2 separate regions of the Homo sapiens genome follow, and region 2 is linked to region 1. The links come from fine-mapping of genetic effects on gene expression. A gene starts in region 1. The other region holds a variant in brackets. All regions are shown on one strand. Distances are from middle to middle. Region 1 holds the start of RNASE1 (ribonuclease A family member 1, pancreatic). Region 2 overlaps LOC107984671 (a long non-coding RNA gene).

What was found. PIP is the estimated chance that this variant, and not a neighbour inherited with it, causes the effect.
Region 2: its variant is the best candidate, but not a certain one, in a credible set for the expression of RNASE1 in atrial appendage (GTEx, PIP 0.52).

The regions. Positions count from the first base shown.
Region 1 is chr14:20,800,406-20,804,795 of GRCh38, forward strand. It overlaps RNASE1 (ribonuclease A family member 1, pancreatic), which reads right to left and starts at 2,439. Exons shown (of 2, transcript NM_002933.5): 1 at 2,392-2,439; 2 at 823-1,688. The coding sequence starts at 1,663. The coding sequence ends at 1,193. LOC107984671 (a long non-coding RNA gene) reads right to left here and starts at 124. Exons shown (of 3, transcript XR_001750624.2): 1 at 1-124. The region is part of intron 3 of LOC105370397 (a long non-coding RNA gene); the gene reads left to right.
Region 2 is chr14:20,730,679-20,735,068 of GRCh38, forward strand. The region is part of intron 2 of LOC107984671 (a long non-coding RNA gene); the gene reads right to left. It also overlaps the pseudogene EDDM3DP. Among named protein-coding and RNA genes, the nearest start is that of EDDM3A, 13 kb to the right of the region's middle. The variant C/T (reference allele first, on the strand shown) is at 1,877.

The DNA of each region.
Region 1 (4,390 bases):
TGGCACACACACCCTTCCCCCTCTCGTGCCTTCGATAGAGGCTGTTGTTCAACCACACCACTGTCCAGAATTTTTTGCTACAGCATTTTGGGTAGGCACTTCCTTTTTTTTTTTTTTGAAACAGAGTTTCACTCTTATTGCCCAGGCTGGAGTGAAGTGGCACCATCTCAGCTCACTGCAACCTCCGCCTCCCAGGTTCAAGTGATTCTCCTGCCTCAGCCTCCCTAGTAGCTGGATTACAGGCACCTGCCACCACGCCCCACTACTTTTTGTATTTTTAGTAGAGAGGGGGTTTCACCATACTGGTCAGGCTGGTCTTGAACTCCTGACCTCAGGTGATCCACCTGCCTCAACCTCCCAAAGTGCTGGAATTATAGGTGTGAGCCACCACGCCCGACCGGCACTTCCAATTAGAGTTGGTACACAAACTGAAATCTACTTGCTATCCCTCAATTCCGTGCTCTCCAAAGTCACTTCTGGCTCTAAAATGTAAGGTTCTGGCTTTCCAACTAAGAGGTGCCCATTTTTCTGATTTAGTAATAGCTCACTCAAAAAAAAAAAAGGAAAATGGAAATTTAGGATCATAATTTCATTGAGTCCTCTTCCCCACCCTGAGGCTAAGCAGGATCTTCCTGAGGTCACACTTGCCTTCCTTCTGTGCCAGAGAATGATTGTATTTGAGCTTCACCCCTCTGTCAGTTCACCCTGCATGGCAGTGTCCCAGGCTGTAGCTCCCTTTTGTCTAAAACAGCCCACACTTAACAGTTTTATGTTTGGCATCAGGGAATCTACAAGGAAAGGAATTTTCTCAAGCCACTAAAATCCAAGTCAGAAGGGAAGGCATTTAATTACTCCATTCACCGTTCTCCAAAGTGAATCAGATTTACAGTTCTTACCCCTTGCTGGAAGGCAATGCCAGAAACAGTACCTAGACAGAACCGCTTCAGAAATCAGGTGTTTGCAACTGCGTTTTATTGAAAGAAAGAGTGGAGGGGTTAACATGGGGCCCACCTCACAACCCACTCTTCACCCCCAAAATCACGCAGGGATGGGACTCAGGAAAGGGAAGCATGTGTGTGTTGAATAGGAGCCCTAACTGTAGTTACTTCTTTCACAGCAGGGAAGGAAGAGGGAAGAGGCAGCTGTGGAGAGGATGAGGTTGAGGGAGGTGGGGTATCTCGCTGCTCTGACCTTAGGTAGAGTCCTCCACAGAAGCATCAAAGTGGACTGGCACATATGGGCTCCCTTCACAGGCCACAATGATGTGTCTCTCCTTCGGGCTGGTCCGGTATGCACAGTTGGGGTACCTGGAGCCGTTTGTCAGGCGGCAGTCTGTGATGTGCATGCTGGAGTTGCTCTTGTAGCAGTTGCCCTGCCCGTTCTTGCAGGTGACCTTTTCCTGGAAACAGACATTCTGGACATCTACCAGGGGCTCGTGCACAAAGGTGTTCACTGGTTTGCACCGCCCCTGTGTCATATTCCGGCGCCTCATCATTTGGTTACAGTAGGTGGAGCTGCTGCTGGGGGAACTGTCTGAGTCCATATGCTGCCGCTGGAATTTCTTGGCCCGGGATTCCTTGCCCAGGGAAGGCTGGACCCAGCCCAGCACCAGCAGTATCAGGACAAGCAGAAGGAGCCGGACAAGAGACTTCTCCAGAGCCATGGTGGCCTCACTTTCCCAGAAAAGCCTAATTGAGAAAAGGAGAGAGAAGGAAAAGAGCCCTCTTAGAAAAAGAACTCCAGCTCCCACCTATGGCTTGCCTGGTTTACACTTTCTGTTTCAGGTCAGCCAGAAAGACGTCCATCCTACTTCCTGAGGTTTTTCGTGTAATGAGACACTCACGTGTACCCTTTTCCACGAGCGTTTTATTCCCACTCTCCAAAGCGAGGTCTTCCTCCCCTCTAGGTGGTGACCTACAAAGTGACCTAAAATCCTGTCAGTTCCTATCTTTGAATACTGGAGTTTCTTTGATCCAAAATACATTTGTACCCAGTGCTCAAATGGCTCATCGAAACATCAGTTTGAATAAATCATGAACCAAATTGTATCCCCGACATCCAGGGCCATGGGTGACAGAGCCTTGTTGTCTTGGAGCATAAGGGAACTCAGGCCAGTGCCTGACACTGGCATCATAAAAGATTCCATTGTATTCCAGAGAGAAACGCTGGCCTCCCCCAATTTGGAGGCTCCTTCTTCTCCAGTCCCATGGATGCTCTGCAGCCTGCACGTTCCACCCTGACCCCTCTGCCCCCAGCTGATGTTTGCCTGGGCCACATTTTTTCAGCGCTAGCATCACCCAATCTTTCTCAGTGCTGTGGACTGGCCCTAGCTCCCTCTTCTGCAACCCTGAAGCAGAAGCGGCACCTGAGAACACCTCTTGGGCTGCTTACCTGGATCTGCAGCTTGGTGTCTGAGAGAGATGGAAGGCCAGTTTCTGCAATCACTCAGCTCCCGGGGTGTGGACCTTATACAGATTACAAAGGGGTTTGGCTTCCAAGAGGAAAAGGGTGGGAGGAGCATCTGGAGCTCAGTTCAAATAAAATCAAGGACGTGAGGAAGGAGTGGTGAATCACCCAGGCCGCCGTCTTTCTAGGGCTGCTGAAGAAAGAGCAAATCTTTGCCTACGTTAGTCTTTCTTCCTATGTGAACCACATCTGTCTGCTGATGCACAAGGAGCAGCAGAGAAAGCCACTACAGCACTGGTGCCCAAACCTGGCACACTAGGAACAAAGTCCTTGTTACTTCTTCGTGGGCGTTTTCACCAAGTAGACTTGGAGGTTAACAAAGGACGCAAAGGAGAGGTTCTAATGGGAGATAGGGAATTCTGGCCAAAGCTATTCCAGGGCTCCTAGGGAGCAAAACCCAAGTCTCTTTCTAGGAGGGCATTCTCCCAACGCTACCTCTCCCGGGGATGGGAGGCGGGGTCGGGGGGAATGGAGGCTGTCCTGCTGCCCCCAGCTGGAAGGCTTCCCAGATCTGGAGAAGAAAGGGGGAGTAACTGAATAGGGAGGAGGAGGAGGCCTCTAGGGTGCGCTCACCCAGTTCTGGCCACTTCCCACCCACCCTCCACCCCTGCTCTGGGGGCATCGAGAGGATGGGGCTGTTCTTATCTACAGTAACCACTGACCCTGTAGGTCGGAATTGAGTAGAGGAACTAAAGATAAACTTAAATCCCAAATCTCAAATTCTTTTTGGGGAAAAAATACAAAGAATATCATATTTATTAGCAGCAGAATGCCCTCCTAGAAAGAGACCTGTTTTTTTGCTGAGTAACAATTTGGATACCTCTAAGAATTATCAAAATATCCCTTCGTGCTGTGTATTCAGATTGTTTCAGCCTTTCTGTGTAAAAAGTGGCCATAGTGAAATTATCTGACCTACCTTGTGTGATTGTAGGTCGTAAGATCCTCATTCCAGAGAGGGTCCTGCCCCCCATACCCAGAAAAAAAGGACGAATGCTCAGAGAGGCCAAGAAGAATCTAGACAGGGAGGCCTTGCTGGGTTTCCCCACTCAGTCTATTTTCATTAGATCGCCCTGTTGTCCAGTCATATTTCTACACAGCTGTTCATACTTTGTTGATATCCAAGTGTAAGAATGCCCACTTTCCCCTGTTATCTTTGGGTCTTCTGAAGGCTCCCGTGTCGTGTAAAACTACGATCAAATCAATTTGTATGCGTTTTTTCCTATCAATCTGTCTTTTGTCAGTTGATTTTCAGCAAACCTTTGGAGGGTGAAAGGGGAATTTTTCCTTGGCCCCTACAGTTTCCTTACTCCCCCAGCCCCCACCTGTATTTTATTTTTCTGAGTCTTTAATAATACTTTTATTCTCTTGAATAGTCAAGTTAGAATGTGTTCATTCATTCATTAGACTGTGGGATACAGACATAAATAAGGCACAGGACTCACCTGAAGGGCGCCTGGTGGGATGGTTTGGTTAGTCAGGTGGACCCCACTAAGGCACTGGGCGTGGCTGCACAAAAGTGGCCTCCACCCAGCAAGATGATTTCAGAACCACAGTTCAGATGTGAACAGATCTTCTGTAACTATAATAAGGCTCTTCAACAGCCCCTGGCCCTAGGAATCCTGAAACTACAGGAAGCCATTTTGTCTATTTATGCATAGCAATCTAGACAAGCCCTTGGAGCTTTAATTGCACTTCAATGGGGAACCATCAGAAGCCCTTACTGCAGCCTTATCCTTGACCCAGTTGCAGAGGCATAGCCCCGCTTGTCTTAGGGCAGTAGATGCCATGGCAACATTTGTTGTTGCTTCTGCTGAACTTGTTCTAGACTCCCTGCTTGACCTCCTGGTTTCTCACGCAGCACAGGCATTACACCTGACTGAGAACTCACTGCACACTTCAGGCAGCCGATTAACCTCTTATAAGA
Region 2 (4,390 bases), 70 kb before region 1:
ATTGCTTGAGAGCTGCACTTTGAAGATAAGTTCTGGTTGTAAACATTCTGATATTCCAACAACGAGGTGGTCCAGTGAGAAAATCAACCAAGATGGCTTGGCTAGGAGCAGCCCTTGGAGGTGTTGATAGAAAACATATGCAAGTATCTTACTTTATTCATAAATTGCACCTTTGACTAGTTTTAATGAACCACTATTGGTCACATTTGCCAATTCTAGGGTAGTTGTTACAAAACATATGGTGAAAAATCTGGGCTGTGACGCGGAAAGGTGACCCCTTGGACGCTCACATGGGCAGGTGGTCTTGTCTGGTTTGAGCTCAGTTCAGGACTGAATCTTGAGTTCCTGAAAAACAACTCAGCCAGTACCTTGTGACCCATACTTCACAGTCAGACGTTATATATAGGAACATTGTGCAAACTATGGCTAGGCTACGTGACATTTTAATGGTAAGCACTACAGCGTCAGCAAACAGCTAAGGGTCATAGTTATAAGCTGACTAGAAAAACTTCAGATACTGGCTACCTAATCATTCATAGCTACCAGGCTATTGGTTTCATTAGACATTCTTTCACTCTCAATGAAGGCCCTACAGTTCACAATGTTAAATGTGGTTTTCCTCAGTGAAGTTCCCATGTAATGTAGCCTAGTCATCCAGAGACTTCCCAGAAGCTTGTCAGAAATTAAATGCGGGAGGCACATCTCTTGTTGTCTCCTGTTAGTGCCAGATAACCCCTTTCTGGGGTCACCTAGGGTCTTTCAGTTCTTTTGTGCCCTGAAGTCAGTCTTTGATGTTTGTGGCCTTTGCTCAAAGCCACTGTCTGAGTGAACCCAAGTGTTCCAGATGACACTATAGAAGAACAGGCTCACATAATAAGGCTGTTTCCCATCACCACCTCTGCTACCAATCAACTCAAGCGCTGAATCTCCCCCTGCCATTCCTTTCTCCACTGCTGCAGATTTCCTGGGCTCTGAGAAAAGGAGGAGGATGCAGACTCTGCTCTTCAGATCTACACATTGAACCCCACTATAACCAGTGACCTGAACTCAGAGTCTGAGTAGGGTAAGAACTGCTTTGCTGAGGACCCTCGGGGGATGACTAGGAGCACTGGCAGGAGGCTGATTGAACTTTTATTTTTATTTATTTGTTAGTATTAATTTTTTTTCTTTTTTTAGACAGAGTTTTGCTCTTGTTGCCCAGGCTGGAGTGCAGTGGCACAATCTTGGCTCACTGCAACCGCTGCCTCCCAGGTTCAAACAATTCTCCTGCCTCACCCTCCCTAGTAGCTGGGATTACAGGTGCATGCCACCACGCCCAGGTAATTTTGTATTTTTAGTAGAGATGGGGTTTCACCATGTTGGTCAGGCTGGTCTCGAACTCCTGACCTCAAGTGATCCACCCACCTTGGCCTCCCAAAGTGCTGGGATTACAGGCGTGAGCCACCACGCCCGGCCTAGTATTAATTTTTTGAGATGGAGTCTTGCTTTGTCACCCAGGCTCGAGTGCAGTGGCACTATCTTGGCTCACTACAACCTTCGCCTCCCGAGTTCAAGTGACTCTCCTGCCTCAGCCTCCTGAGTAGCTGGGGTTACAGGCACACGCCACCGTGCCAGGCTAATTTTTTTGTATTTTTAGTAGAGATGGGGTTTCACTACGTTGGCCAAGCTGGTCTCAAACTCCTGACCTCAAGTGATCCACCTGCCTCGGCCTCCCAAAGTGCAGGGATTACAGGTGTGAGCCACTGCCCCCAGCCTGATTGAGCTTTTAGATAGCAAAGAATGGAGAAGGATCCAAATCATGGAAAACTAAGGCCTGAATTCCAGTCAGCCTCATTCCCACTGATACAAGCTTTTCCCTGCCCCTCCCTTCCTTCAC[C/T]CCCAGTCACCTCAACCACAATGCATTAAAGCTGCTTGCATCCTACTCTCCTAACATGTGTAGGTCTTTATCACCAGGACAGGGTTCCACAGATAGGAAGCGCCGACCCTTTGTTCTGTGTCTGAGGTGAGCATTTGACATTGTTAGAAGTGCTCTCGCATACATGCATCTCATTAGACTCTCACAGGTCTGTAGGGAGCTGTTATTAGGCCCTACATCGGTGAGGACACCGATACTCAGAGCTGTGAATCAGGTTAGAGGTTCAGTAGGGCCAGGAACACTCCTCATGGCAAATGAGGACAGAGAGCTTGTTTAAAGAGGTAACTTTTTCAAACAACCATACATCCTAGGCTGTGACCACAGTAGCTCCGGTGGGGACTTTTTTAGTCTTTATGCCTAATTGAGTACAGCTATATTTCTAAACTGGTGTCCTTTTACGATGGCATCGTCAATAAGCAGCTCTGACAAATGAAGATCACTTGTAATAGTGATAATTAGGGGAATGGCCCCTGAGAAGGAATACGGGTAGTTAGTAGTAACCATATGTTCCACCCAGGCTTTGGGAGAAGTGTTATAAGGAAGTCAAGATATTGGAGAAGCATCATTTTGCAGAGTCAGTGTAATTGTAGCCTGGGCTGTGATTTCAGAGAATCAAAGCCTTCCTGCCTAAGAACCACCTGCCTAGTAGTCACTCATCTTCTACACTCGTCTAAAATGTGACAGCCCTGCTCTTTTTGCCTGCTGTCATCCACATAAGATGTAACTTTCTCCTCTTTGCCATCTGCCATGATTGTGAGACCTCCCCAGCCAGATGGAACCAAAGTGGAGTCTCTGGAACCGCCCAGCAGCAGCCTCATTACTCAGAAGATGCTGACGAAGACCCAGACAGGAAGAAAGGAAGCAAAAGCATCCTGACTGGTACATTAGCAAAGGCACATCCCTGGAGAGCAAGGAGAGGGGGAGGGCAGGCAACAGTGCCCATGGCATGCATCTGCAGCTTGTGAGCAATGCATGAAAACAGGAATCAAAAAACAGCATTGCCTCCAGCATCCATGTGTTTATGGCTCTCATGGGGGGCATGATAGAGGAGGATGGATCAGCACTAGCTCTGCAGGCTGCCTAACCTGGAAGTCAGTCTCTGCCTTTAGATCTACTCACTTCTTTTGGGAACGGAAATATCCACGTATCCCTTGTCCTACAACCTCAATTAATGTCTTTGCAACAGCCATCTGTTAAATTCAAGAAGGCCCTGGAACAACTTAATTGGAAAAGTTTCCCTCTTATCCCTTGAAAAACCATAGAAAAGTAATGTCACACGAATGTTGAACTTCTGATTTCTACAATTTCAGATACCAGAGTTTATCTGTTACCATGACAACTAAGAGCTTTATAAATGTTTTCTAGGCTCTGCTTGCTATTTTCTGGAACTTATCTACATTTCAGTATTTGCTTAATAATTTTGAGCTGACACTAGCAACATAATTGTGTCTGGATTGTGTATTTGTTGTGTGTTGGCGGGGGTGGGTATAATTGATGTCTTTGTTTTTCAATATGAGCAATTTTTAATAAACTTTAATATTTAATGTGCAAAAAAAAGTTACAGCCCTTTCCACTTCGCAGACAAAAAGCTTAAAATGCCATTTTCTATTGCATGCGTGACTTCCTGAGAGTTGATCTGATGAAAAGAAGCCAGCTGGAGGGTGATTGGGTGATTCTACCCAGTGCAGGTTGGGTGGATGACAGAGTAGACAGGAGATGTTTGAAATTCTCAAAATGAACTTCATCTATTTTTTTCCAACTTTGTGTTTGGCTCACATAAGATGAAGCATACTTTTAGTTCTTAGAAACTTTATTCTCTTATGAGAATTATCTTCTAATCAGGGAACCAAATAGTAAAATTGTGCTGAGTGCTTGCATTGGCAGGAAACAGAACTTTAAGATAAAGGTCAGCTCTCTGGACATTGTCTACATGATGCTTTTCTTTCTTTTCCCTGTGGACACGCAGGTGTCCCTGGTGACTGAAATGGCATCCTCTCTGAAGATCTGGGGCAGTCCCTTGGCCCTGCTTTGCATTCTTTGCAGGCTACTTGTACACAGCAAGGACGTTTCCTGGAGAGAATTCATGACCCTGCACTATTTAGATCCAAGCCAAGATTTTGAAGAGTACAAATGTGATGTCCTCACGAGAGAAAAAGAAGCTCTGAAACGCAAGAGCTCTCATATGTCCATCTATAGCTTATGGCACAAAATGGAGTGTATATGCATTATTGAAATGGGAATAACCGATATAGATATGCCTATGTATGGGCCCAGGGTGCCCTCAAAGTACTCGAGTGTCAGTGGCAGAAGTACTGCAATAGCTACACAGAGATCTTCAACTACATTGAATTCCACTGTGGCAAGGATGGGTATGTTGATAGCATAGGAGACCTGAGGATGGTGGAGCCTATCAGTAACTAGAAGGTCCATGCACATCCTCAGGGATTGGTATTCAGTGCTTCCCGAGTGGTGGCC